Linked DNA regions of Homo sapiens. The protein of the gene in region 3 purifies or fractionates together with the protein of the main gene of each other region. This does not show direct contact. Each region holds a gene or a part of one and is shown on either strand. Other genes may lie near its edges.

What was found.
Region 1: the proteins of MTHFD1 (region 3) and XPNPEP1 fractionate together in Homo sapiens (co-fractionation; one large-scale study listed by BioGRID). This does not show direct contact.
Region 2: the proteins of MTHFD1 (region 3) and ALDH1B1 fractionate together in Homo sapiens (co-fractionation; one large-scale study listed by BioGRID). This does not show direct contact.
Region 4: the proteins of MTHFD1 (region 3) and CDH2 fractionate together in Homo sapiens (co-fractionation; one large-scale study listed by BioGRID). This does not show direct contact.
Region 5: the proteins of MTHFD1 (region 3) and PC fractionate together in Homo sapiens (co-fractionation; one large-scale study listed by BioGRID). This does not show direct contact.
Region 6: the proteins of MTHFD1 (region 3) and MCCC2 fractionate together in Homo sapiens (co-fractionation; one large-scale study listed by BioGRID). This does not show direct contact.
Region 7: the proteins of MTHFD1 (region 3) and MTHFR purify together in Homo sapiens (co-immunoprecipitation; one study listed by IntAct). This does not show direct contact.

The regions. Positions count from the first base shown.
Region 1 is NC_000010.11:109,881,727-109,885,843, forward strand, and holds part of XPNPEP1 (xaa-Pro aminopeptidase 1), read right to left. Parts: intron 2,423-4,117; coding exon 2,341-2,422; intron 917-2,340; coding exon 706-916; intron 1-705. UniProt on the Homo sapiens protein: Metalloaminopeptidase that catalyzes the removal of a penultimate prolyl residue from the N-termini of peptides, such as Arg-Pro-Pro. Contributes to the degradation of bradykinin.
Region 2 is NC_000009.12:38,395,347-38,399,423, forward strand, and holds the end of ALDH1B1 (aldehyde dehydrogenase X, mitochondrial precursor), read left to right. Parts: intron 1-393; coding exon of another isoform or gene 394-402; coding exon 403-1,956; 3' UTR 1,957-3,315; downstream 3,316-4,077. UniProt on the Homo sapiens protein: ALDHs play a major role in the detoxification of alcohol-derived acetaldehyde. They are involved in the metabolism of corticosteroids, biogenic amines, neurotransmitters, and lipid peroxidation.
Region 3 is NC_000014.9:64,457,191-64,460,894, reverse strand, and holds the end of MTHFD1 (C-1-tetrahydrofolate synthase, cytoplasmic), read right to left. Parts: intron 2,682-3,704; coding exon 2,592-2,681; 3' UTR 2,588-2,591; intron 1,137-2,587; coding exon of another isoform or gene 960-1,136; 3' UTR 870-959; downstream 1-869. UniProt on the Homo sapiens protein: Trifunctional enzyme that catalyzes the interconversion of three forms of one-carbon-substituted tetrahydrofolate: (6R)-5,10-methylene-5,6,7,8-tetrahydrofolate, 5,10-methenyltetrahydrofolate and (6S)-10-formyltetrahydrofolate.
Region 4 is NC_000018.10:28,166,682-28,170,798, reverse strand, and holds part of CDH2 (cadherin-2 isoform 1 preproprotein), read left to right. Parts: intron 1-4,117. UniProt on the Homo sapiens protein: Calcium-dependent cell adhesion protein; preferentially mediates homotypic cell-cell adhesion by dimerization with a CDH2 chain from another cell. Cadherins may thus contribute to the sorting of heterogeneous cell types.
Region 5 is NC_000011.10:66,871,384-66,875,500, forward strand, and holds part of PC (pyruvate carboxylase, mitochondrial precursor), read right to left. Parts: intron 777-4,117; coding exon 641-776; intron 489-640; coding exon 304-488; intron 98-303; coding exon 1-97. UniProt on the Homo sapiens protein: Pyruvate carboxylase catalyzes a 2-step reaction, involving the ATP-dependent carboxylation of the covalently attached biotin in the first step and the transfer of the carboxyl group to pyruvate in the second.
Region 6 is NC_000005.10:71,585,643-71,590,275, reverse strand, and holds the start of MCCC2 (methylcrotonoyl-CoA carboxylase beta chain, mitochondrial isoform 1 precursor), read right to left. Parts: upstream 2,937-4,633; 5' UTR 2,851-2,936; coding exon 2,722-2,850; intron 1-2,721. UniProt on the Homo sapiens protein: Carboxyltransferase subunit of the 3-methylcrotonyl-CoA carboxylase, an enzyme that catalyzes the conversion of 3-methylcrotonyl-CoA to 3-methylglutaconyl-CoA, a critical step for leucine and isovaleric acid catabolism.
Region 7 is NC_000001.11:11,791,881-11,795,997, reverse strand, and holds part of MTHFR (methylenetetrahydrofolate reductase (NADPH)), read left to right. Parts: intron 1-649; coding exon 650-900; intron 901-1,134; coding exon 1,135-1,269; intron 1,270-1,459; coding exon 1,460-1,640; intron 1,641-1,908; coding exon 1,909-2,091; intron 2,092-3,618; coding exon 3,619-3,720; intron 3,721-4,117. UniProt on the Homo sapiens protein: Catalyzes the conversion of 5,10-methylenetetrahydrofolate to 5-methyltetrahydrofolate, a cosubstrate for homocysteine remethylation to methionine. Represents a key regulatory connection between the folate and methionine cycles.

The DNA.
Region 1 (4,117 bases), on a different chromosome or scaffold from region 3:
GGGAGGACAGTAGAAAAGCCTACCTCTAAAGAGGCCTGGATTCCAGTCCCATCCCAGACCCTAATGAAAATGAGGCAACAAGTGTCAGCTGCTTAGCACTGCCCAGCAAGGGCTCAGTAAAGGGCAAGGCTATCACTATCACTTGAATTTGACAAATCCCCAAATCCCCAACTCCCCAATCCTCTCTGAGCCTCAAGTGTCCTTAGCTATAAAATGTGGTGCGGCAGAAGGAGGGGGTAGAGAAGCATTTCCCAAGCTTCAAGCATTCTTATACCACCTGCACAGCTTTTACCCTAGCTTCTTAACTGCTGTACCCTTATTCACTTAGTACTTTACTTTAGACCATCTTTAAATCAGCTTTATTAAATTCAACTTTATTTTAAATAATTATATCATGAACTCATGCTAGTTATGTTTTTTCTATTATATGCTAAATGCTGTTAAAACAGATATATTTAAGCAAACCTAAATAATAATGTGTACCACCTAAAATAATCTCTCATGCCACACTCTGGAAAACACAAGACTCAACAAGCAATAAGGGCCCTCAGGCTCTTGCTATGGCTCCAGCTTTAAGGCCTCATCCATGGAGACCACAGTTCTGATCCAACAGGCAGCCTCAGAAATCTGCCTGTGCTCCAAAGACAATACCAGAACTGGGAAGGGGGTGGCAGAGTTTAGATGGGCCAAAGTGGGGTCACCAACCTTGGGGATGGTCTCGCTCACAGCATAGCTGGCCTTGTCACTGACCCACACCTTCTCCCTTGGGGAGAGGTCAGCACACAGGGCCTTGAGCTCGCTCAGGATGGACTTGTAGGGATGCACCTGGATCCTGTATTCGGCTTCCAGACCCAAGTCAAGAAGCAGGTGCTCCTTCACACTGGGGGCGTCTATGCGGTCACCATCAATGAAGAGCCTGCAGATGGAGGAGAGGTGGGTGGCAGAAAAAGGAGGGAACATGAGTGAGAGGTGGCAACACAGACACACATACACATCAGGCTCTGTTTCCTGGCAACCAAAACCAAGCCCCTTTTCTCTCCTCCCCACTCCTTTCCCAAATCCTGCCCTCCAAGGTGCATTCCCTGCCCCCATCCACCCAATCTGCCAAGCCAGAAATCTGGGCAGTGTCCTCCTTCACTGATGACCCTCTTCCCGTCCTTCATTAAGACCTTGGGACCCACAGCCTAAATCTCCATCTAATCTGTCCAGCTCATCTACAGCCTCGCCCAGTCACCACTCAGGTTCAGGTCCCACCATCTCTCACTTGGGTTAGTGCCACAGCCTCTAAGTCTTTCCCCATCTACCGATGTTTCAGTCATAATATTCTTTACAACTTGTACATCTAACATGTGGTTCCCTCTGAAAAATTCGTTCAATAGCTTCCCACTATTCTTGTTCAGAAAAAGAACCCAAGCTCCTGAATGTGGCCCACAAGGCCTCTCTTTTCTGTGGCCCCTGCTCACATTCTGGCCTCACTATGTTCTGACCTCACTGAACCACTTCAGGTCCTCCACATGCACTGTGCTCTCTACTGTCCAGAGTCTCTGAAAATGCTGTTCCCTCTGCTTGGATCATGGTTCCCCGCCCCTCCTCACCCTGCCATTCACCTAACTCACCCACATTTATCCTTACTCTCTGCTTCAAAATATTACTTTCCCCAAGAGTCTGCTCTGATCTCCAAGTCTAGGTCAGGCCCCTCTCGTAACACCTGTATCTGTCCCACAAGCAGACTGGTGCCCACTTATGTGCCCAAATACTTTAGAAAGAGGACATGCTCATCTCCCCAACTCCAGCCAAGGACCCCGTCCTGTTTCAGTCACCCTAGCACCTAACAGAGACCCTTAGCACATCACCAGCACTTAATAAATGTGTTGTCTTAATGCAAAAAGCTATTGAAATAGAACAGTAATGAAAAGAAGGCCACACGAAATGCTTTGAAAAAATAAACTGACAATTCAACAAAGCGTAGTTGGAGGGGTTTTCCCATATTATTTTTGACCTTCAAAATGACTGGGTTTATTTGCATTGTGGACCCAGAATTGTATAATTGAGCATATATACCCCTTAACACTGGCTGCTAGAAAACTTGACATCAAATGGGTGGCCCGAACTATAGACACTTTCATGCGTTTCAAACCATTTTGGGGGCTCAAAGAGAGGCAGGATATAAATAAACACCTACTGCTAAGGAAAACAAGAAGGGAAAATGTTAAAAGGGCAAGAAAAAAGAAGCACATCAGTGAAATATCAGGCAGTGATGGGTGGGCCAGGACCAGAAAGGGCACACTAGGGCTCTGAGGAGCTCTGGAAGGGAGTTCCAGATGCAGGGCAAACACTCACATGATCGTCTCTAGTCCTATGATTGCGTAGGAGAAAAATACTGGATTGTGCTCCACATCTGATCCTCGGAGATTAAATAGCCCTAGAAAAGAAATCAAAATCCCTGTCACCTGTCTGACTTAAGATGTTAAGGGGTCGCTTGTAGCGGGAGGGAAGAGCTTCAGCTTGGAGTCCAGCTGCTGCGCAAGGATTCAGTGGAATCGCACAGAAAGGCTGGAAGCCTGACTCCCGTCTGGTTCCACCTCTGAGCTGCAATTGCTCATGTCCACCACGTGATGGCACCAGAGCTGTTTCTCAGGCTTCCACATCACTGCCCGGAGAAGGGAATAAAAGCTATTAGTTGAAATCCTGAGAACTGCCCCCACAAGGAGTTGAAATGATCCGCCTAGTGGTGACCTGCCAGGCCTGGCCTTGAAGCCGACAAACCTCTGGCGCTCCCAAATAAAAAGGAAGGAGACGAGCACTCTCTCCCTTCTGAGGCAGATGACCTAGGGTAGAAAAACTGAGACCCTCCCACAAGGGAAGCCAGGCAAGCCTCCTCTGTAAGGGTCAGTGAGCCCCATGGAGACGGAGCTTCCTGTCAGAGGTGGAAAGAAAAGCAGTGAGTCAGCAAGGCTGCAGCTCACCAATGAAATCAGAGCCTGCAGCCCACCCATGGGTCTGCTCTGGCACCACGACTGGGTGGGGGACCTGCGGACAGCCAGTAACAGTGATGTTGCTGAACGTCTGAGAACTAGACAGACCAGGAGAGAGCACAGTTCTGGTCCCAGGACTTCCAGCTTCCGTCACTTGTTCTCATGAGGATCAGAGCAAAAAAACGCCTGGGCATTAAAAGTATAACCTCTATTTTAAAATAATGGCTTCTTAAAGTGATGAGGCACCATTTTTTACCTATCATACTAGCACTTCTTTAAAAATGACAGTACCTGGTGTTCAGGTGTGGCAAGACAGACAAATTCAAATACAAAGGTGCAAACTTTCTGGCAGACAAAGGGCAAGATGAGTCAAAAGCCCTAAAAGCCAACCAGAAATAGGAAGAAAATTATCAAACACTAAGACATGGATTCATGAACCAAGATTTTGATGGTAGCATCATAATAAATTACAGGATTACTGCAAATAACCCAAAGGTCATCCTTAGGGAAACAGTTAAATAAATTATGGTATAACCACATGATGGAGTATTTAATACTCACTTAAAATTATGCTTGTATATGCTTATAGTGTACTGATACAGTGAAAAAATCAGGCTATAAAATGATATATGCATAGAATATTGACACTGATTATCTCTAAGTAACAGAATTTATACGTGATTTTTTTTTTCTTCTTTTTACTTCCTCTGCATTTTCCAAGTTTTCTATCATGGGATTGTGTTTTTGTTACAATCAGGGAGAGAGAAAAGTTTTACAGGTGTTTTTCTCTGACGTTGAGATCATTAAGTTAATTAGGGATGTAAGTCACTGACACACTTGACAATGTTTTGTGGATGGAAGATGCAGGGACTGAAGAGAGAGGACACTGCAGTAGGGTCTCATTCTCTAGTGAGAAGGCAAAAAGATAAAGCAGTGCCTCTTCTCAGTTGCCCTGGGTCAAATCCACTCAGAAACCAGAAGACAGGACAGGAAGGTTCAACCAGATTCCGTCAGGTTTTAGATGAAAGAAGGTGCTGAACAACTGCATGAAGGTGGGTTAAGGTCCAAAGACTGAGAAACTACTATTACATCAAAGGGCTTGGGGAGGAACTTTTAGTTCCTAGTTTTCTGAGGTAGAAATG
Region 2 (4,077 bases), on a different chromosome or scaffold from region 3:
CTTGCATTTTACTGGGGGGAGACAGACAAACATATAAGCCTGTAAAGATAGTATTTGGGATGTGAGATAGAGAAGGAGTAAAGCAGGGTAGCGGGGATAGAGAGTGTTGGGGTGGGAAGGGTTGCAATTTTTTAAAGGGTGGTCAGGGAAGGCCTTGCTGAGACAGTGGCTTTTGAGACCCAGCAGAGGTGAGGGAGTGAGCTGAGGATAGGCGGGACGTGATGGAGTTGGCCCAGAGAGTTCATCAGGGCCCTCACAGCTCTTACAGTCTGTGTTTTTAGAGGTGACAGTCCTTTATGCTGGAATCTTGAAATGTTTGAGCTGGTGGGCCCTTGGGTACCGCCACCTGCCTTCTCCCACCTGTTCACCCTGGTTTCTTTTGTCCCTCTCCAGAGTGTCAGCATGCTGCGCTTCCTGGCACCCCGGCTGCTTAGCCTCCAGGGCAGGACCGCCCGCTACTCCTCGGCAGCAGCCCTCCCAAGCCCCATTCTGAACCCAGACATCCCCTACAACCAGCTGTTCATCAACAATGAATGGCAAGATGCAGTCAGCAAGAAGACCTTCCCGACGGTCAACCCTACCACCGGGGAGGTCATTGGGCACGTGGCTGAAGGTGACCGGGCTGATGTGGATCGGGCCGTGAAAGCAGCCCGGGAAGCCTTCCGCCTGGGGTCCCCATGGCGCCGGATGGATGCCTCTGAGCGGGGCCGGCTGCTGAACCGCCTGGCAGACCTAGTGGAGCGGGATCGAGTCTACTTGGCCTCACTCGAGACCTTGGACAATGGGAAGCCTTTCCAAGAGTCTTACGCCTTGGACTTGGATGAGGTCATCAAGGTGTATCGGTACTTTGCTGGCTGGGCTGACAAGTGGCATGGCAAGACCATCCCCATGGATGGCCAGCATTTCTGCTTCACCCGGCATGAGCCCGTTGGTGTCTGTGGCCAGATCATCCCGTGGAACTTCCCCTTGGTCATGCAGGGTTGGAAACTTGCCCCGGCACTCGCCACAGGCAACACTGTGGTTATGAAGGTGGCAGAGCAGACCCCCCTCTCTGCCCTGTATTTGGCCTCCCTCATCAAGGAGGCAGGCTTTCCCCCTGGGGTGGTGAACATCATCACGGGGTATGGCCCAACAGCAGGTGCGGCCATCGCCCAGCACGTGGATGTTGACAAAGTTGCCTTCACCGGTTCCACCGAGGTGGGCCACCTGATCCAGAAAGCAGCTGGCGATTCCAACCTCAAGAGAGTCACCCTGGAGCTGGGTGGTAAGAGCCCCAGCATCGTGCTGGCCGATGCTGACATGGAGCATGCCGTGGAGCAGTGCCACGAAGCCCTGTTCTTCAACATGGGCCAGTGCTGCTGTGCTGGCTCCCGGACCTTCGTGGAAGAATCCATCTACAATGAGTTTCTCGAGAGAACCGTGGAGAAAGCAAAGCAGAGGAAAGTGGGGAACCCCTTTGAGCTGGACACCCAGCAGGGGCCTCAGGTGGACAAGGAGCAGTTTGAACGAGTCCTAGGCTACATCCAGCTTGGCCAGAAGGAGGGCGCAAAACTCCTCTGTGGCGGAGAGCGTTTCGGGGAGCGTGGTTTCTTCATCAAGCCTACTGTCTTTGGTGGCGTGCAGGATGACATGAGAATTGCCAAAGAGGAGATCTTTGGGCCTGTGCAGCCCCTGTTCAAGTTCAAGAAGATTGAGGAGGTGGTTGAGAGGGCCAACAACACCAGGTATGGCCTGGCTGCGGCTGTGTTCACCCGGGATCTGGACAAGGCCATGTACTTCACCCAGGCACTCCAGGCCGGGACCGTGTGGGTAAACACCTACAACATCGTCACCTGCCACACGCCATTTGGAGGGTTTAAGGAATCTGGAAACGGGAGGGAGCTGGGTGAGGATGGGCTTAAGGCCTACACAGAGGTAAAGACGGTCACCATCAAGGTTCCTCAGAAGAACTCGTAAGAGCAGCTGTCAGGGAGGCCCAGTCACAGTCCAGCAATTCCACAACCACCTTGACGAATGCTTGCCAAGCTGTTTTAAAGCCAAGAACACCCTTTCTTTGTTCCAAATTAACTCTTAGAAGAAACCCCACAAATAAAGCAATTCAATCAAGGCTGTTCTATTTAAATCAGAGATGGGGACCAGGCTCAGAGTTCTACCTATCTAACCCCCAACCACAGCCCCCTTGGTGGCCCATGAGTTGCTTCCATGAAATCTTAGGAGTCTCTGGAGGACAGATTAAAAACCAGTGATCTGTAATTTGTAGCTCTTCCTGCTGATCCAAGGACTTTCCCATGGGTGCGCTTGATGGTTTAGTGGATCGACTCAACTCAGAACACAAGCTTGGAAAGTGTTAGGGGTTTTGAACTAGGTGGATACTAAATCTCGGCCCCACTCTTCATTGGCTTAACCTAAAAACCAGAGGTGCTTTTCCTTGTCTGTGTGCCAGTTGCTGGCTGTTTTAGTTGCTTGCCCTTCATTTTGCTACTGATTTTCCTTAATTTGTGGGAAGGAGTAGGCAAAGAATATGCTTACATGATTACACCTGTAAAGTAAGCCCAAACATCCCAAATGTCCGTCAACTGATGAGTGGATTAATAAAATGTTTCCATGGAATATTCCTTGGATTACTCAGCCATAAAAAGGAATGAAGTACTGACACATGCTGTGACATCAGTGAACCCTGAAAACATCCTTCTCAGTGAAACAAGCCAGAGAGATGTACAAGGCTACAGACTGTATGATTCCATTTATATGAAATATACATACTAGGCAAATCCATGGAGATGGAACATAGATTAGTGGTTGCCAGGGGATAGAGGAGTAATTGTTAGTGGGCATGGGATTTGTTTTTGGGAGGTTTTGAAAATGTTCTGGAGTTGAACAATAGTAATGGTTGCATGATTTGGTAAAAATACTAAAAACTATGGAATTGTTTAATTATGGTATATGAATTAATTTCTTTCTTTTTTTCTTTTTTTTTTTTTTTTTTGACACGGAGTCTCACTCTGTCGCCCAGGCTGGAGTGCAGTGGTGTGATCTCGTCTCACTGCAACCTCCGCCTCCCAGATTCAAGCGATTCTCCTGTCTCAGCCTCCTGAGTAGCTGGGATTATAGGTACATGCCATCACACCTGGCTAATTTTTGTATTTTTAGTAGAGATGAGGTTTCACCATTTTGGCCAGGCTGATCTTGAACTCCTGACCTCAGGTGATCCACCCGCCTCAGCCTCCCAAAGTGCTGGGATTACAGGTGGGAGCCACAACACCCGGCCATGAATTAACTCCGTTAAAAAATAAACGTATACATTCTGTGAGCAAATCCATTTTGTCTCCATATTGTCCTGCTGCTGAACATTTTATAGAGTGTGGGGGATGGAAGGGACCCAGGTGGTCTAGTCAACCCCCAGTCAGGTGCAAAAGTCCCCTCCCCAATGTTTCTGTTTTTGTTTTCTCTTGGATGGGTGACAAAGTGCAACTGTAAGACCCGTAGAGAAAAACTCTGGTTCCTGCTCAGAATGGGCCCATCTTGTTGGACTCGTTTCCACAGCCCCCCACCCCTTCCAAACCATACCCACCCTTCAAGCCAAGCCTAGCATGGGGGCCACCTTGACATGCTGGGGATTTCCAGAGTTTCAAACCTCAGAGTTCATAATGTTTATTGTTAGTCTTGCTACATTCATTCCCCAACTGATGGGAGTGAAGGCAAATCCAAGCCAGCCAGGCCACAATACAGAAGCAGAATGCTGAGCCTCCCTCTCTCGGTCCATCTTTCTAGACCATGCTGCTTACAAGCCACCTTACGTTCAAGTCCCCCCATTCCTGTAAATGCACACCCCACTCATCTCTGCTTCCCAGGCTCAAGCAATCCTCCCACCTGAGCCTCCCAAGTAGCTGGGACTACAGGCACTCACCACCATGCCTGGCTAATTTTTTTTTTTTTTTTGGTATTTTTTGTAGAGATGAGGTTTCACCATGTTTCCCAGGCTTGTCTCAAACTCCTGGTCTCAAGCAACCCTCCTGCCACGGCCTCCCAAAGTGCTGGAATTACAGGCATGAGCCACCATGCCTGGCCCCAGTCAAC
Region 3 (3,704 bases):
GCCACCACACCCAGCTAATTTTTGTATTTTTGGTAGAAACAGGGTTTTACCATGTTGGCCAAGCTGGTCTTGAACCCCAGACCTCAAGTGATCCGCCCACCTCGGCCTCCCAAAGTGCTGGGATTACAGGCATGAGCCACCTCCACGCCCAGCCAGAAGAGGAGGAAAAAAAATATTAGGTTGGTGCAAAAGTAATTGTGGTTTTTACCAACCTAATGTTTTAGGAAAAAGAAAGTCTGGGCCAGGTATGGTGGCTCATGCCTATAATCCCAGCTACTTGGGAGGCTGAGGCAGGAGAATCACTTGAACCCAGGAGACGGAGGTTGCAGTGAGCTGAGATCGCGCCACTGCACTCCAGCCTGGGCGACAGAGACACTGTCTCAAAAAAATAAAAATAAAAATAAAAAGTCTGTAGGGAAGGGTGGAGCCCAGGCATTTAGAAGAAACTCAATGAATACTTGCTGCACCAACAGAATAGAGGCTCACCTAAGGCTAATGCTGCATGACCATCCTTCTTGAGCACTCTAAACATAGACAGTGCTAAAGCTGTGACAGAAATGGGAATTCCAAGGAAGTTCAGGCAAAAACTTGTATAAGCAATACTTCCTCAGGGTAGAAAAACAAAATTCAACAATATAGAAAGGTATAAGATTAAAAGGTAAGTCATCAACTTCCAACCCAACCCTCTCAGGAGGTCCCCTGAATTATGTGTCCTCTCAGAAATACACAAGCATGCATACATTTCCCTCTAAACACAACAGTATCATAAAGGGCACACTGCAACTTGCATCTTCAGCCCAAGGGTCTGCCTGACAAATGAGCTCACAAAGGATGGCAGAGACCTGTGGCACAGTCTGTTAAGGCTGTAATTCATATTGCAACACCAAGATGGCAAACTTGTTTCCTTTTATTCTGTGGAACGTCACTAAAGTAAACAGACATGCATGATTTATGTTAATTTATACATGATGAGAATTAAGGCTGAAAATGACTTCTGGGGAAACTCCTACTATTAGTTTCAGATCTTCTGGGCAGGGGCTGACTTCTCTTGGCTTACTTATACTTCCTAACTCCCAGTGGGCCTGAATAGACACTGGCCAGACTTTCAAAGTAGCTTCTTGAAGATGGATGGTGATCTGGAAGGAAAAACAAGAAATAAATGTTTTCTCTAAGCAAGCACTGAAATGTTTCCTGTTCCTTCCATACTGCACCATTACCCACTCACATTGCCAAAGCTGTTAACATTTACATCCTTTCCTGCCACCAGCTCTTCTAGGGCGTGTCCATAAATGGACTTGAAAATGATGCATGGTATTTCCATAGTACTGTGTGAATACTGTTCAAGACCAGACCAAGCCGTGAGCCATGACTGCATTTCGAGTATCACACATACCCTCTCAAAGAATAGTGTTCTAGCATCAAACTACAGTTTGCTTCTACTTGGACCTTAACTTTCTCAAATAATGCAAGAGCTTTTGTTTTATACTATGACCCTTTGATATCCTTGTCTTTTCTAGCTTTTTCTAGTTTTTCTCAGGTGCTCCCCCAACCTGTTCCACACAGGATTTGTAACTTCAGGTCATTTGCATGGTTATCAGAATGCCCCTTCGCTAATGTCCAAATGAGGGTTCAGTTTCCCAAAACTCACGTCTTCCTTTTTTCTTGGTTAATTCCTCATTTTGCTAAGTACATTGCTAAATAACTTCTTAGGAAGAGATGTGGGGTGGCAAACCCTTGCACGTCTGAAAATATCCAGATAGATTCGGCTAGGTGTGAGCACATGTTGAAAGTCATCTTCCCTGTGACCTTACAGGACACTCCTCCATTGTCTAAAAGCTTCTTATTGCCAGTAAGACGGGCGTTAAGTCTAGTTCTCATTCTTTTCATAGGCAAGCCACTTTTTTCGTCTCTGGAGAAAGATGTTAGGATTTTCATGTTTGATATTTTTGCAGTTTCAACAGGATGTGTCTAGGGATATAAGTGCACACTGCAACTTGCTGCTTCAGCCCCAAGGGTCTGCCTAAGGAGAGACACGTCCTGTTGAAATTTCAAAAATATCAAACAATGCAATGTCACTCATTGCAGTCGGTACTCAGGGCCCTTTCACCTAAGGCCCTAAGAACTGCCAGATTGGTCCTGTTTCCTTCTCTTTTCTATTATACTTCCTAAGACATTTGCTAATTCTTGCCTTCTAACTACCTATTCAGAGTATACAGACCGTCAGCTGTTCCTGACCTGCAATGTGTCATCAACTCTGAACCCCAAGCCTCCTGGGGCTTCAGCAGAGGGAGTCTAACCTCTCCTGTAGTTTCCTCTGTAGTTTATTGGACAGCAGTTTTCTCCCCTACACTGTCAACCTGTGACAAGCCATGCTGCGCTTCTTCCAAAAATGTGTTGAAATATAAATATTTCAATTCATTGGTTATTGCCAACTCTCATTACTATCCCCTCTCCCCTCAGGGAAGTCTGAAAAGAAATGTTTTGAAAGCATTAGAATGTGAATTTTTATAGCGTCAGTTTGAGCCCTATAATTCATAAATAAGCTACATGAGGAAAAAAGCCAAATTATTACCCAGTAACAACTTACCTGTTTAGAATAATCCATTCACCTGTTCTGTTTCAGGGTCCAAATCAATATCATAAAAACAGGGCCGGGTGGGGAGTCCAGGCATTGTGCTCATCTAGGATGTAAAAAAGCATTACAAATAAACTAATGCTGGGCACAGTGGCTCACGCCTATAATCCCAGGCTGAGGTGGAGAGGATCACTTGAGGCCAGGAGTTCTAAACCACCCTGGGCAACATAGTGAGACCCCCATCTCTACAGGAAATAAAAAATTAGCTGGATATGATGGCATGTGCCTGTAGTTCCAGCTACTTGGGATGCTAAGGCAGGAGGATTGCTTGAGGCTAGGAGGTTGAGGCCACAGTGAGCCATGATCATCCGATTGCCTGGGCGACAGAGCAAGGCCATGTCTAAAATAAACGTAAAGTCATCTTTACTTTCACTTTTCCTTCAGAAAGAAAGCCCAAGGCATAAAGATAGAACATCATTTTATAGTTGTCAATAAAGTGGGTACTCTTGTTACATATTAAAAATCAAGTCACTGATCCTGTTAAAAAACTCAGAAACTGATCCCTGCCGGGCGTGGTGGCTCATGCCTATAATCCTAGCACTCTGGGAGGCCAAGGCAGATGGATCACCTGAGGTCAGGAATTTGAGACCAGCCTGACCAACATGGTGAAACCCCATCTCTACTAAAAATACAAAAATTAGCTGGGCATGGTGGCGTGTGCCTGTAATCCCAGCTACTTGGGAGGCTGAGGCAGGAGAATCGCTTGAACCTGGGAGGCGGAGGTTGCAGTGAGCCGAGATCTTGCCACTGCACTCCAGCCTGGGTGACAGAGCAAGACTCCATCTCAAAAAAAAAAAAAAGGAAAAGAAAAGAAACTGATTCCTCATGTCCTTCTGCAAACCAAATGCCAGCCTTCACTATCATCTTCCATGTGGTCACAAGCAGTAGCAGGAGGTGTTTCCACCTTCACCTTACAAGAATGAGTGCTGGGGAGTAGAGGAGTTGCTCACTCGCCTCCTCAGCTCACGCTTTGCAAGACCAAAAGGAGGTACAGGGCTTGCCTGCTTTTAAATTTTGTTTCGTTCAGTCTTGCTAGCTGAGCTGCCCATGTGATTTTTGCTTCAGCAAC
Region 4 (4,117 bases), on a different chromosome or scaffold from region 3:
AAATGATTTAAGAAATTATGGCATAATGTTAAGCTAAATTTAATAACCCCTGCTGTAGGGAACAAAACATTTTCTACTAGTTCAGGTTCAAGAAAGCGATTGTTAAGCCACCTCATGTTTTGGGAATAGTCATGAACCTAAAAAAGCTACAGAGGGCCAGGCATGGTGGCTGATGCCTGTAATCCCAGCACTTTGGGAGGCCAAGGCAGGTGGATCACGAGGTTAGGAGATCAAGACCATCCTGCCTAACACGGTGAAACCCTGTCTCTACTAAAAATACAAAAAATTAGCTGGGCATGATGGTAGGCACCCGTAATCTTAGGTGCTTGGAAGGCTGAGGCAGGAGAATCACTTGAACCCGGGAGGCGGAGGTTGCAGTGAGCCGAGATCATGCCACTGCACTCCAGCCTGGGCAACAGAGCGAGACTCCACCTCAAAATAAAATTTAAAAAAGCTACAGAGAAGGACAACCAAAATAAATGAGGATTTCAGGCTTCTGAATGAGGATTAATTTGACACAGACCACAATATAAGCTATAACTGAGAAATATACAATCAAACAGTAGATTTAAGAATGAAGATAACCTAAACTAACACTAGGACAATCCAAGTTAGGTTTAGAACAACCTATAGCAGCCTGAGCTATAAGTAGATCCAAAGGAAGATTGGCTGAATTAATGGATAGCTAAATAATGGATACGTTTCCATGCTGACATCATGGAATAACCACTTTATGCTGAGTTCTCAGTGCCTGAGAGATTATAATAGTTGGGTAAACCATGGTAATATTTCACATTCTCCTGACTGATTGAATGTTTAACTTTTCATCTGTTCTAATAGTGGAAGTGTAATTGAAAGTGGACCTTACTAGTATGTGGAACTGGAGATACAGAAGAACATTTAGTATATGAATGAGAGTTCTAGTGTACCCACTGCCTTGATTAAGTAAGCAGTTTAACTTGGGTTTTTCAAAGTAGCATTGGGAGAATTAGTTGTATAGTGCTTTAAAGCAGCTTGAGCTATTTAAAAAGAGTTGCTATTATACATATGGTATGGGAATTATAATGCAGAGATGTTTGATCCATGATCTGTTCTTAGATTTTCTTTCATAAAATATACCTAGCTATAATTTAAAAATTAGATAGTGTACTTACCTACTCCCATATATTGTAGTTTTAATTTTAATACTGATTTTTGTGTAATTAAAAACATTAATTGGCCATTATAATTTAAAACATGTATGCCCAGATTTTCTTTCCATTCTGATATGTTACTTAATGTTTGGGTGGATTAAATAATTAGTTTTAAAAAGTAAATTAAAAGGTGCATAGTTTGGAGTTTTTATTATTCCAGAAATCACTGGCACTAAAAATGTAAAATGACTCTTTTCTCCCTTCATTACTAAAATACACTTTGAGTTTTCTTAACTTTCTTCTGTTGCACTAAATATTGGATTTTGATGTTACTGCTTTCGTTAAAGGTTGTAAGGATTGCCCTTTTAGTTTTTTCCCACATCTGCAGTTTTAAGACATTCCTCAATTTATTTTATATTTGGTAATTGTCAGTACGTCATTCACAGAACTCAGTAGAGCAGATACAGCAGAGAAAACCCTTGAAACTAGGTATTTGCTGCTGCCTCTTTAAAGAGTTTTTCAAGCCAATGTCTGTTAGTATTAAACCTCAGAAATTAAGTATTTTTAATTTCAGGGAAGGAAACTATTATGTTTCAGTTCATTGTTTCTGTAACTCTATGAGATAGGTGGTTTTGCTCTCATTTTAGAGATGGTAAAACTGGAACTCAAACATTCTGAATATGAGAATCCAGAATAAAACCATATTTGTCATATTCAAGTTGGGCTTGACTACAAAGCATACGGGTTTCTCCCTTTATCAGACTGCAGCCCTTTTTGTATAATACCCAGAGAATGACTGTCACAATAAAGAAGAGTTTCAGTTTCTCTCTACTTAGTTGATTTTTTTTTCTTTAAATAATTAACTTTTGAATTACACTCTCTGTTTAATCTTGGCCTTAAATATTTTGCTTTCTTTTGGCATCTGAAGCCAAAACATAATGCTTGGTTAAGATTTTCATTCTTTTTTCCTGTGGTCTTTAGGAGAGAAAAAACATTTTAGAAGCATTCATAATCAGTTTTTAAAAGTTCTTCTAATAGTTTTGATCAACAAATAATATGCTGGTAAGTACTCAAAAATAATTTTTTTTAATGAATCTTGGAACTTAAAATACTTTCTGAAAGCCTATAAACTCTCAGGCCACAAGACCACACATTTTTTTTGAAACTCTTTTTTCCATATTCTTCAGGGTGAAAGTAAATGCAAGATATTCCACCACCAATTTTTGAAAAGTTTTAATGTTTAATGTTCAAACATTTTCCATATTTGAACACTTTGCATTACTTTTTCGCACACTAATAATGTTATTTGGCATATTTTAATATACATGTCCACATCTTGAAATGACCCACTGCAGACAAGTTCCGGTGAATATTCTGTAGTGTAACTGAGTACAGATACTGATTTGTTTGCTGCTGGGAAAAACCTAGAACTATTTTACTTGTAACTTGACCTGTTGTTGGTGGGTGGATACACTTGGCTTGACTGTAATCTTGCACGAAATGTCTTGTTTGTTGGTTGGGAAACTATTAAGTGGAATCTGAAATAAAGGACTAAAAAAAATTACATTTACTAAATTGAAAGGGGATGTAATCCCCCCGCTCCCGCTTAACATAAATCTTTAATAAACTCGAAACTGTGACCACTTTGTTATTATTTTTCCTTTTGTTGTCTTAATTGGTTAACACAGACATTCAAAGTCTGAAGTTCATTCTTTATGGCTCTCGGGTTGAGTAAATAAAGAAAAGTCTGTTTTTGCAGCGAAAATATTGGCCTTTGGCACCCACTCTCTTGCTAAAGTCTATTTGGTGTCAACACCTTTACGATTGAGTTCTAATATCCTGCTACCTGATATGATATTTTAGGGAACTCAAAATTCAGATTATGTACATATAATACACACATATACATTTACTTTATGGAAGTGTCAAATGCATACAGGAAAATATACATAGAAGTGGACAGCCTGCTAAATGTTCCTAAATGGAACATACTAGTTAATCAGCACTGAATCAAGACAGAGTTTTACCAGTACCTCCTTCCAATTTTAACCGTCCCTCAGTGGTAACTATTTATTTGACTTCCAACAGCATGATTTTTTTGCTCATTTATACTTTGTGAAACCATATTCTCTTTTGTGTCTGGCATCTTCCACTCAGTACGCAGAATCTTTCTTATATTTATATCATATGTATTTGTAATTGTCACAAAATTAGGAAAGACGGACACTATAGAAATATATTGGAGGTAAGGAGGGTGAAGTTGGTTTAAAATGGAAAGATTAATCATTTTTTGCAGCTAAAGGCCACTCGCACATTTATGGTGTCAAGCCACTAAATACCTTTTGTGGGTTTTCTTACAATATCTTTTGCCATAGTTCTGGTAGTTTGGCAATATCACTTCAGCCAAATGCCAAATACATTTGGAATTCTGTTAAGTTATAGTCTCTCTTGTCCTTCCTTTTATTAGAACGAGAGTGGAGACAAAGAACTAAATATCTTTCTGACCTGAAGTTTTTAATCAGAAGATTTAGGTGTTAACAGACTCTAATCTTTTCAGCGATGCTTCTTAATACCTTCTCTGAGCTTACTAGTGACCCAGTTTTCAACAAGGCTTTACCCAGTTTTTTGTTTTTAATTTTGGAAAGGGTACATTGAGGGGTTTCTACTTCCACACACTGTGTGTATCCGGGTACCATTTACCTTTTTTTATATTTGTATATCTTTTTTAAAGATCTGAGAGTCTGCCAGGAGGGATGCAGATTGTCCACATTTGTCCCAGCATCTTTCTTTCTGGAGGCCTTTTCTGTTTATAATGGTTTAGTAGCTCTAGATTGTTGGTAGAGGCTTCCATGCATAATGATGAAGACTTAAGGAATCAAATTCCATAGGTAATTGCCCACCAAGGATTTGTTGGCTTCAAAGCTTCTCTAATTTATTTATCTTCTTACACTTGTGGATTTAATTTTACCATATTTTAAAGATTG
Region 5 (4,117 bases), on a different chromosome or scaffold from region 3:
CAATAAACCGGACCCCTGCATCCTGGCAGGCCTGGGCGAAGTCCGCTCGCTCAGAGAGGAACCCGTAGCCAGGGTGCACTGCATCTACGTTGTTCTCCTGCAGGTGGGGGTCAGGGAGAGGACGGTACCTTGCAGTCCCTTCCAAGGCCTCGGCCAGCCTCTTCCCCTGCCTAACCTGCTGAGCTGCATCCGTTTACCCACCCACGCACAGAGGCGCTGAGCACGCCAGCCTCAAGAGACCCCCGCGGCAACTAAGACTCCCTGGTCCCTGCTGTCCAGGCCCAGCCAGGCCACTGGGCTCACCTTGGCCACCTTGATGATGTCTGGGATGTGCAGGTAGGCCTGCACGGGGGCCAGGCCGCGGCCGATGAGATAGGCTTCATCTGCTTTCTGCCGGTGCATCTGGCCCGTGTCCTGCTCAGAGTAGATGGCTACGGTGCGGATGCCCAGCTCCGTGCAGGCCCGGAACACACGGATGGCAATCTCACCTAGAGGGCAAAGAAACAAGAAGTTAGATTCCTAGGTCCTAGGAGAAGCAGAAAGGGGAGTGGGAAGCCAGGGCCTGGGGCAGTGAGTGGGAGAAGAATGCCAAGGCTGGGGCGGCCATGAGGCTCCTCTCACCGGCCCCACTGGTGCTCACCTCTGTTGGCCACCATGACTTTCTTGATGGGCTTATACTCCAGGCGCCGGACATTTGGGGAGGCAGCGGGGGCGGTGGAGGTTCGGCGGATTCCCAGGAGCCTCAGGCCCCCATGGACTGTTCGGAACTTCAGCATCTAGGGAGGGAAGTTAGAGCCCAGGTTAGCGCAGCCTCAGCACTGAGGCTCCTCAGAATGAGTGAGGGCCCTTCCCAACCCCACAGTGGCCCCACAGAAAGGCTAGCACCATCTACCTCCTGATGCCTGGCCAAGCCCAACATTTCCTGGCTCTAGAGAAGGGAGCAAATCCAACCCCAAATGGAACCCCCAGCTCAGCCTGATATCCTAACTGTGACTTTATTGTTGTAGAGACAGGGTCTCCCTATGTTGCCTAGGCTGGTCGCAAATGATCCTCCCACCTCAGCCTCCTGAGTAGTTAAGACTACAGGTGTGAGCTGCCGTACCCAGCATAATATGCACTATAACTTTTAAAAGTATCAGGTTGGCCCACCCTGGCTAACACGGTGAAACCCCGTCTCTACTAAAAATACAAAAAAAAAAAAATTAGCCGGGCGTGGTGGCGGGCATCTGTAGTCCCAGCTACTTGGGAGGCTGAGGCAGGAGAATGGCATGAACCCAGGAGGCAGAGCTTGCAGCGAGCCGAGATCGTGCCACTGTACTCCAGCCTGGGCGACAGGGCAAGACTCCGTCTCAAAAAAAATAAAAGTATCAGGTTGGGCGCGGTGGCTCATGCCTGTAATCCCAGCACTTTGGGAGGCTGAAGTGGGAGGAGCACCTTACATCAGGAGTTCGAGACCAGCCTGGCCAACATGGTGAAACCCCGCCTCTTACTAAAAATATAAAAATTAGCCGGGCATGGTGGCACACGCCTGTAATTCTAGCTACTCAGGAGGCTGAGGCACGAGAATCGCTTGAACCTAGAAGACAGAGGTTGCAGTGAGCTGAGATTGCGCCACTGCCCTCAGCCTGGGTGACATCAAGACTCTGTCCCAGGAAAAAAAAAAAGTATAATACTTCAGGTTGGGCACGGTGGCTCACACCTGTAAACCCAGCACTTTGGGAGGCCAAGGCACATTTGTGTGAGCTCAAGAGTTTGAAACCCACCTGGGCAACATGGTGAAACCCTGTCTCTACAGAAAATATAAAACTTAGCCAGGCATGGTGGCACATGCCTGTAATCCCAGCTACTTGGGAGGGTGAGGCATGAGAATCACTTGAGCCTGGGAGGTGGAGGTTGCAGTGAGCTGAGATGGCACCACTGTACCAGTCTGGGTGACACAGCAAGACTCCATCTTTAAAAAATATATATATATTATATATAATATATTATATATAAAATATAAAATATTATATATAATATAATATAAATATATATAATATATTATATATATTATATATTATATTATATATAAAATATATATTATATATAATATAATATATAATATTATATATATTATATAATATTATATATTATATTATATATTATAATATATATTATATATAATATTATAATATTATATAATATTATATATATATTTAAATCAACTGACGACAACTTATATCCCTGAATGCAAAGAGGCTTCAGAGGTTGGCCAGCCCTTCATTTGTAAAATGAAGGAAACCAAGGTACAGTGGAGACTAAAAAGACAGCTGCCCAGCACAGAGCCCAAGCCAAACCAGACACACTCTTTTCACCCCTGCATCTGGGCCTCATCTAACCATCTGATTCATTTCTTTCTTTTGAGACGGAGTCTCGCTCTTGTTGCCCAGGCTGGAGTGCAATGGCATGATCTCTGCTCACTGTAACCTCTGCCTCCCAGGTTCAGGCAATTCTCCTGCCTCAGCCTCCCAAGTAGCTGGGATTATAGGCATGCACCACCATGCCTGGCTAATTTTGTTTTTGTTTTGTTTCTTTTCTTTTTTCTTTTTTTTTTTGAGACAGAGTCTTGCTCTGTCACCCAGGCTGGAGCGCAATGGTGCGATCTCGGCTCACTGCAACCTCCGCCTCCTGGGTTCGAGTGATTCTCCTGCCTCAGCCTCCCGAGTAGCTGGAATTACAGGCACCCGCCACCACGCCCAGCTAATTTTTGTATTTTTAGTAGAGACAGGGTTTCACCATCTTGGCCAGGCTGGCCTCGACCTCCTGACCTCAGGCGATCCACCTGCCTTGGCCTCCCAAAGTGCTGGGATTACAGGTGTGAACCACCACGCCTGGCTGTATTTTAAATAAAGATGGGGTTTCACCATGTTGGCCAGGCTGGTCTTGAACTCCTGACCTCAAGTGGTCTACCCGCCTCGGCCTCACAAAGTGCTAGCATTACAGGTGTGAGCCACCACACCCGGCCGATCTGATTCATTTCTTAGAAAACGTTTAAAACACTTGACTCAGCCATTTTGTTTTAAGTAAGGAACATAAAAACATACTCAAGAAATGAAACAAATATTGCAAAAACCTTAGTGCCATATTACAGCCAACAACCTAGAAAAGGGGAAATAAAGACAGAAGAAAAAGAAAAGAGAAGAAACAAGGAAATAAGTAGAAGAAAGAGAAGAGGAGGAGGAGGAAAGACCCACAGCCAGGGGAGAAAAACAGAAAACCCCACTAGGGGCAGACCTTATGCCAGGCACAGTTCTAAGCCTTAGGAGTCGAGAACACAACAGTGAAGGGTTCTGCTCATGGAAGATGAATGGCAGTGAAAGGAGCAAAGAAAAGAAAAACAAGACACAAATCAGAACATTTCAGATCACAAGTGCCTGGAAGATAAGAAACAGGTGACATTTTGCGAATGATCTGGGGCGGGTGCAGGGGTTTGGGGGCTGGATATTAGAAAAGGCCTCTCTGAGGAGGGGACACAGAAGCTGGGACCTGGATGGGGAGAAGTCGGCCACGCACAGATCCGCAGAGAAAGCTCCAGGAAGAAGGGATAGCAATTGTGAAGTTCTCAGGAAGAACAGGCTTGGTGCTGTCCTGAGAGAGGGAAGTGTGAGCCCACGGCCTGAGGTGGGGCTGCAGCCACAGACAGGGCCCAGTGGTTGAGGCCTCCCTTCAGCCATGGACAGGACAGGAGGGACATGATCGATGCACAGTGGAAAGGATCTCTCTGGACTGGCGAGCAGCAGGGGCTGACAGACGACGCATGTCTGGGGCAATTCAGAGGCTGAGCTGAGAGACGCGGAGCCTCTGACAGGGGGAAGCTATGGGGGTCGGGGTGGGGCTTAGGAAACATCTGGGCTATGACAGACAAGATTCGTCGAGAGACCCCCCATAGAAAGCAAGGTAGAGGAAGAAATCCTGTATGGGTGGGTGGAGATGACTTTTCCTGCTATAAGAAGGGCAAGACAGAAAAGGCAGGGCTGGGAGTGAGGCAAGCTCACAGAGGGGGAAGAGCAGGGACAAGAACCTGGGCAGCATCACAGGGGCGGTGGTGTCTGAAGCCAGGGAGAGAACAGCCTGGGAG
Region 6 (4,633 bases), on a different chromosome or scaffold from region 3:
ACCAACCTAGCCTCCTTAGGATGAGACTCACTAACCAAGAGGCAGTGTAGTTTAGTGGCAAAACCAAGTTCAACTTTCAGTTTCCCTACTTACTGATACTGCATTTGGCAAATCTTGATCTCTCAGGACGCCAGGTGTTTGTGTTTGTGTGTGTGTGTGTGTGTGTTTTAATCACCTGCGAAACAACATTCTACAACCTAGTAATTTTCTTGTGAAGCTGAGCAACCACAGAGGTTAGTGCCTGACAGTCATAATGAATTGGAGCTGAGCCACTGACAAGTTTCCCACCCCATCTTTTCAACCATAGAACCCACCTAGGTAGAGCTGGGTGAGTGAGAAGCATTATAGAGCAACAGTTAAGACCCTGGACTCAAGAGTTATGAGCCAGACCACCTGGCTTCAAATTCAGGCTCTGTGTTATCTCAGACAAATTTCTTGGACCCTATATACCACAGTTTTCCCATCTATAAAACAGAAATAACAATTGTACCTACTGCACAGGATCATTATGATAAATACATGAGTAAAACCACATAAAGCCTTTAGAAAAATGGTGGGTACACTATAAAATTCCTGCCATTATTATTACTTATTATAGTTGCTTTTATTTGTAATCAGGAAACACAGCTAAACTGGATCATTCATCCCATTCTCCCCCACCCTCATGGACTTGCTTTGTCTAATGTGAGCACACATTAATTTCATCACATGCCAGCAAGGATTTTAAATCCAATTTGTGTTCAGCCTCTTGCTCCTGTGCCTTCGGCCATGAGAAGGGCATGTTTAATTCAGGGCTGCTCTTCAGCCTCAGTCCAGGAATGGGAAGACACATGGAGCAGACCTGAACCTACCCTGCAGTGGAACAGTCACAGCAGCAGCTAACCAAAGGCCACCAACACGAGTGAGAGATTAAGAAACAAAACAAAATCAAGTGAGAGACTAATATTTACTGTTGTGAGTTACTGAGATTTTTTGATTATTTGTTACACAAAGCGCAACCTAGCAAAAGGTGATTCATACAAAACCCATCACCAAAGCCTTCTTTGTATTAATGGCAGTTCCACCTAACTAAATATTCTGCCCAGTTGGAAACTCCAAAGTCATCCATTTTCCCCTTCCACTCAGTTATTAACTCTATAATCTTTGCTCCTCAGGTATTTATGCCCCCCTCCTACATACAACTCTAACTTTGACTCCTTCATCTCAAGACTCAACTCTCCACTGTCACCTAGGTCTAGTCTTTTCCCTATATCAATCCATCCTCCACATTGCCACCACACTGATGATTCTACCATATCCATAGGATCATGCCACTTATCTACTTAAATATTTTAATGGACAACCTGCCAAATGGAATCTAAATGTGGCTTTTGCATGGAAGATCCTCCTCTATCTGGCCCCATAATCAATCAATCCCATCACCAGACACTATTCAATGAATTCCATGTCCTAGACATGGAATTCAAGTCCTCACACCAGATATACACTTTCATAACTCAGTACCTATGTTCTTGTAACTCTCTTGGTTTATACAGTCTTACCTTCCATCCTGCACCCTGAACTTGGCCAGCTCTTACCCAAGATTCATCTCACCCATTACTTCCTATCGGTAGCTTTCTGTAACCACCTTCTCAAGCTTTAGACAACCCTTCTTACACTGTACCACAGTTACCTGCTTTCTTGTCCATCTTCCCTACAAAATTATTAGTTCCATTCCTACGCATCCATGCCAAATATCTAAAATAGTGCCTAGACCACAATAACCACTTAATAATTCTGAATTAAACATTCTGGACTGACAAACAATTGTGTGTTGTTTGCACTATTTAGATGTTATCTGTATAGGCTTAGAAATCGTGGGAACACAGTGAAATTTTCCAGCTCTGATATTTCGCAAGTTTTGAGTTTTTTGGCCTTATGATGCCTCCTAATTCCAAGAAAAGCCACTCAAAGATACTGTGGGATATTTTCTATTAACATAACCAACTTTTTTTTTTTTTTTTTTTTGAGACAGAGTTCGCTCTTGTTGCCAAGGCTGGAGTGCAATGGCACGATCTCAGCTCACTGCAACCTCCGCCTCCCAAGTTCAAGCGATTCCCCTGCCTCAGCCTCCCAGGTAGCTGGGATTACAGGCGCGCGCCACCATGCCCGGCTAATTTTTGTATTCTTAGTAGAGATGGGGTTTCACCACGTTGGCCAGGCTGTTCTCGAACTCCTGATCTCAGGTAATCCACCCGCCAGGGCCTCCCAAAGCGCTGGGATTACAGGCGTGAGCCACTGGGCTCGGCCATCATAATCAACTTTTAAACTCAAATTTCCTAAGCACAGCGCCCCTCGTTGGGCTGCTCTAGGCCAGTGGTTCCCAAAGCTGGCTGCCAAAAGTCCCCTAATGAGTTCACTAACAATATAAACACAGCGACTCCACCTGAGACCCACAAGGTCCAGAGTAGGGCTCAGGCAGCTATTCAGCTAGCTCCCCAGGTGGCAATTCTAAACCAGGCTTTAAGAACCACTGATTTCAAAGACACAAAGTACAGTGCCAGCTCTAAAAGTGAACTAAACTTTCTTGTATCTGTTAGGCTTTTCTTCTTCAAACTTCACGTGCGTCACAGAATCAACTGGGGCTCCGGACAAGAGAGCAGCAGTTGTTGAAGCGTGCCCCTCCTCCACTTGCTTCCTAGCCTGGCACCGGCGGCCAGGCCACCGGGGCGCTCAGCCTACCTGGTAGAGGGCAGAGCCCAAGTCCGGCTGGGTGCCCAGCGAGGCCACCGAGTCCCCGTGATAGGCGCGCGGCCCGGCGGGAGAGGCGCGGGCACACGGCCGCAGGGCTAACCTCAGGACGGCCCACATGGCGGCGGGCACCGAGCGAGAGAGCGGCCCACGCTGGCCTGGAGCCGGTGCTTTCCCCTGCCGCTTCCCTGGCTGGGGCGGAAGCTGAGCTCAGGTCCTTGCAGCCCCAGAGAAGGTTTCTCTGATTCTCAGGCCTGTCCACACACGTGCCTAAGCGCGCCGCCCGCGATTGGTCAAGCCGCGCCACGCCCCCTGACCCAGCCAATAAGGGACAGAGCCTCAGCCCCGCGAGGTCGCGTCTAGTCCCGAGCGCAGGAGAGCAGGTCTCCCCGGCGGATCGACCCTCACGAAGCGGTGCGGCAGTGAGAGAGCTGCGGTTGGGCTTGGATTGGTGTTGTGTTGACACAGCGATAGATAATATCACGATAGTGACTGTACCTAAGGCAGGAGAATAAGTCTGGAAGCAGGGAACCTAAGGCTGTCTCACGCTGACTTCCTAGAGCTAAACTGAAAGGAAAACCCTAACTTTCCATGCCTAAGTAACAAAAGGACCAAAGGCTACTCCCTTTGCAAACCCCCCCACCTTTTCCGCAGGGCAGATAGGAAATTGGCTGTCCCCGACAAATCAGACTTACTGCTGGTGGAGGCTTGCTTTGCCAAGTTTGAACCTTAACTCCAGCCTCTGAATGGTTGCTGTCCACAACCAATCAGACTGATTGGGGGTCCAGTCTTCGTTTGCATAGAAGTATAACTTTGTAATTTCACCCTAGCCTCTGACTGCTTGCTTCTTGCAACCAATCGGGTTTGAGGTGAGCATAAAATGGCCAATAGGAAACTTCTAGTGGGTATTTGGACCCAAGAAGATTCTATATCCGGGCCCTTGAGCTCTGCTCGGTCCGCTCCCACATTGTGGAGTGCACTTTCGTTTTCGGTAAATCCCTGCTTTCGTTCTTTCGTTGCCTTGTTCTTTCTTTGCTTTGCTGGGCGTTTTGTCCAATTCTTTGTTCACAATGCCAAGAACCTGGACAACTTGCAGTCACAACCCCCAGTGACACACCAACAACATGAGTGAATCGCATCTAACACGTGCTTGCGAACAGCACAACAAGCCTGTTGTCCTTTCACTGGAGACCTTAAACATTCTTCTGATTATTTTCGCTATGTAGTTATTTTTATTTTTTACTTTATTTCATTTTTTGAGACAGGGCCTCACTCTGTCGCCCAGGCTGCAATGCAGTGGCACGATCACAGCTCGCTGAATCCTTGACCTCCCACCTCAGCCTTTCCAGTAGCTGAGACTACAGGTTTGTGCCACCAAGCCCGGCTAATTTTTTATTTTTGTAGGGGTTTCACCATGTTGGCTATGCTGGTCTTGAACTCCTGGACTCAAGCGATCTGCCCGCCACAGCCTCCCAAAGTGCTGGGATTACAGACATGAGCCACCACACCAGGCACTATGTAGTGACAGATTGTGGACATCAGCACTGTGGTCTTAAATAAAGGACTCCAAATATACCCATAAAAATTAAAACATTCTATACAAAATGCCTTGAACTTAAGGTTTTTCATTCACATATTTATTGAGCACTTACTACTTCTACTCCATTGGTTGCTTAGTGGGGCAGAGTAAAGGGGGAGGATGGGGTAGAGAAAGGGTGCGTCTACACCTGGAGGTAAACTTAGGTTCAGACTTCAAGGTACTTATAAGAAAATAATACAAATGGCCACATGATTTCTTACTGAACTGTGTAGGACAGACATTAAAGGAACAGAATGCAATTGGGAAAGGGTTGCAGCTGAGCCTTGCAGAAGCGTTGAGAGTGGACTGAGCAATGAACATGGC
Region 7 (4,117 bases), on a different chromosome or scaffold from region 3:
AGGGGTTTGTTGTACTTTGGCCAACAAGCATCACCAAAAGGGATTCTAATTCTCATTACAAATCCTGCTTAAATCAGTGTTTCCCAAAGGTGGCTGTCATCAGAACCACTTGATAAGCTTTTTCAAAAAGTGGATCTCCAGGTCCCACCCCTGGAGGTTCTCACTCAGTAAATCTGAGGGAGGTCCTCGGAATGTGTGTTTTACTTCTTGAGCTTGGCAGGTGATTCGGATGATCAGTGCAGCATGGGAACAGCTGGGTTAGATGACACCATGTTACCAACAGACACATCTAGGGCTAAAAGGCTGGCTCAACCCAAGGCTGGAATGCTTAGGGCAGCTGCTCTACTCTGTAAAAAGTGGGAAAGCTGGGCATAGTGGCACGTGCCTGTAGTCCCGGCTACTTGAGAAGCTGAGGCAGGAGGATGGCTTGAGCCCTGGCGTTTGAGAGCAGTGAGACTCAGTCTCTAAAAACAGAAAAAAGAGGAGAAAACGGCAGGCCAAGCCCAGGTGTGCTCCTAGAATATGATCGGACTTTCGTGGGTCCCTCTGCCTGACACTGTGGTTGGCATGGATGATGGAAGGGGGAGAAGTATTTAGGGTGGGAGACGGGCTGGCCAGCAGCCGCCACAGCCCCTCATGTCTTGGACAGGGCTACCACTCCCTTCGGCAGCTTGTGAAGCTGTCCAAGCTGGAGGTGCCACAGGAGATCAAGGACGTGATTGAGCCAATCAAAGACAACGATGCTGCCATCCGCAACTATGGCATCGAGCTGGCCGTGAGCCTGTGCCAGGAGCTTCTGGCCAGTGGCTTGGTGCCAGGCCTCCACTTCTACACCCTCAACCGCGAGATGGCTACCACAGAGGTGCTGAAGCGCCTGGGGATGTGGACTGAGGACCCCAGGTGAGGGCAGTGGCCCAGAGATCCCCAGAGGAGGGTCCAAGAGCAGCCCCGGCTGCAGTGCTGGCTCCCCACGGTGGTACAGATGGATGTCTGTGCCATGGCTAGCTGGGCACATCGAAGGCTCCAGTCTCAGAGGGCATCAGATGGAAGAACTCAGCCTCAGGGGTGCTCCCCTGCTTCCGGCTCCCTCTAGCCAATCCCTTGTCTCAATTCTCTGTCCCCATCCTCACCCAGGCGTCCCCTACCCTGGGCTCTCAGCGCCCACCCCAAGCGCCGAGAGGAAGATGTACGTCCCATCTTCTGGGCCTCCAGACCAAAGAGTTACATCTACCGTACCCAGGAGTGGGACGAGTTCCCTAACGGCCGCTGGTGAGGGCCTGCAGACCTTCCTTGCAAATACATCTTTGTTCTTGGGAGCGGGAGGGCAGAAGAAGTTTGCATGCTTGTGGTTGACCTGGGAGGAGTCAGGGGCAGAATTTACAGGAATGGCCTCCTGGGCATGTGGTGGCACTGCCCTCTGTCAGGAGTGTGCCCTGACCTCTGGGCACCCCTCTGCCAGGGGCAATTCCTCTTCCCCTGCCTTTGGGGAGCTGAAGGACTACTACCTCTTCTACCTGAAGAGCAAGTCCCCCAAGGAGGAGCTGCTGAAGATGTGGGGGGAGGAGCTGACCAGTGAAGAAAGTGTCTTTGAAGTCTTCGTTCTTTACCTCTCGGGAGAACCAAACCGGAATGGTCACAAAGTGAGTGATGCTGGAGTGGGGACCCTGGTTCATCCCCTGCCCCTGGCCTGACCCCAGCTGCAGGCCAGGCTGCGGGGCTGTGACTTCCCCATCCTGTGCCCTCCCCTCCATGCTGTGGACATGGCAAAGGGAGAAGGGTAAGTTGGGAGACCTCCACCTGGAAGGGCTTAGGGAGGCAAAGACAGGCTGGGTCTTTGTTGGGGGCCGTGAGAGGGACTCAGGGTGCCAAACCTGATGGTCGCCCCAGCCAGCTCACCGTCTCTCCCAGGTGACTTGCCTGCCCTGGAACGATGAGCCCCTGGCGGCTGAGACCAGCCTGCTGAAGGAGGAGCTGCTGCGGGTGAACCGCCAGGGCATCCTCACCATCAACTCACAGCCCAACATCAACGGGAAGCCGTCCTCCGACCCCATCGTGGGCTGGGGCCCCAGCGGGGGCTATGTCTTCCAGAAGGTGTGGTAGGGAGGCACGGGGTGCCCCCCTCTCTTGACCGGCACCCGTGGGTTCCCCAGAGCTTAGGGCAGAGCAGCCTGCCTCTCCTGGGCTCTTAAATTTTGAATGAGCATGGATTGGAGCGGATGGGAGCTCATGCTTTAAGTCAGATAGACCTGGCTGGGCACGGAACCCGGCCAGCACTTTGGGAGGCCAAGGCGGGTGGATCACTTGAGCCCAGGAGTTCGAGACCAGCCTGGGCAACATGGTGAAACCCATTCTCTACAAAAAATACAAAAATGACCGAGGCATGGTGGTGTACACCTGTAGTCCCAGGTACTTAGGGGGCTGGGGTGAGAGGATCGCTTGAGTCCGAGAGGTTGAGCCTCCAGTAAGCCATATTTGTGCCTCTGCACTCCAGCCTGGCCCACAAAGTGAGACCCTGTCTCAAAAAAAAAAAAAAAAAAAAAAAAAAAAGATTGGCTGGGCTTGGTGGCTCATGCCTGTAATCCCAGCACTTTAGGAGGCCAAGGTGGGCAGATCACAAGGTCAGGAGTTCGAGACCAGCCTGACAAACATGATGAAACCCCATCTCTACTAAAAATACAACAATTAGCCGGGTGTGGTGGCGGGCACCTGTAGTTGCAGCTACTTGGGAGGCTGAGGCAGGAGAATCGCTTGAACCCGGGAGACGGAGGTTGCAGTGAGCTGAGATCATGCCACTGCACTCCAGCCTGGGCAACAGAGCAAGACTCCATCTCAAAAAAAAAAAAAAAAAGATAGAAATCAGACCTATGGAGGCAGGTCACTCGACCTCTCTGAGCCTGGTTTTCTCGTCTGTAAAATGGGATGTAGCTTGTGTTCTGGGCATGAAACCTAACAAAGCATGTAACGTGCTTGGCACATGGTAAGAGCAGGAAGCACTCCCTGAAAGGCAGCTGCTGTTACTATCCTGAGTTGACACCTTTCTCCCAGGGCTGCTGGAGTTAACATTATGTTCTGATCTAAGGCCCACAGGCCCTGGAGCAGAAAGACCTGAGTTTAAGGACCAGCTCTACTGTTTACTGTCAGAGTAGCCAACGTGCTCAACTTCCCTGAACCCACTTTCCTCACGTGGGGCTCACTGTGCCCAGCCTCCCGTATTATCAGCATTCTAGCAAATGAGTTTGAGTAAACCCAGCTTAATCCCTGATAGGCACTGGTTCTAGAGGAGATGTCAATGTCATTGTCAGCTTGCACTGGGGAGGATGGAATGTGTGGGGCCTCTCTCCCATGACTCGGCCTGTCAAACCAGTTGCTGCTGTTCAGAAATGGCTTCTTCGTGGAGTCTTCCCTGACTGATTGGGAGAGGGGTGGCTGATAGCCCTCAGACCTGTCCAGACTGAGAAACTCACGTCCCCACTCCCCTCACCCTTTGCTTATGGACGTGCCAACGCCACAGTTCATTATTCCGCCCACATGGCTGCCAGTAGTCCTGATACCTTAGGTGTCTGCGAAAGGGCGTCTGGCAGGGCTGGGGTTGGTGACAGGCACCTGTCTCTCCCACAGGCCTACTTAGAGTTTTTCACTTCCCGCGAGACAGCGGAAGCACTTCTGCAAGTGCTGAAGAAGTACGAGCTCCGGGTTAATTACCACCTTGTCAATGTGAAGGTAGGCCAGGCCCCAGGGTTCCCACAGAGTACCAGGCCCTTCGTTGAGCAAACACCCAGCACCTAGCCTGGGCTAGGCATTGTGCAAGACAGAGAGATACAGGCAGAACTGGGGCCCTGCTCTTAAGGAGCTCCCAGCCTAGAGTGAGGGAGGCAGATCAATGTGTGACCACCAGCCAGTGTAAGTGGGAAAATCAAGTTCAGGAGAGGATGCTGTCGGGTCCAGAGGAGGGATATCTCACCTGGGAGGCCAGGGAAGGCTTCTCAGAGGGTCATCTGTGGGAATCACTGAGGACAAAGAGGAGTTGGCCAACAGGAGAGAAGGGTATTCCTGGGACAGGGCAGAGGACAGGCAGAGGCAGTGAGCTGCACCATCTGGGGAAACGGGGAACATGAGC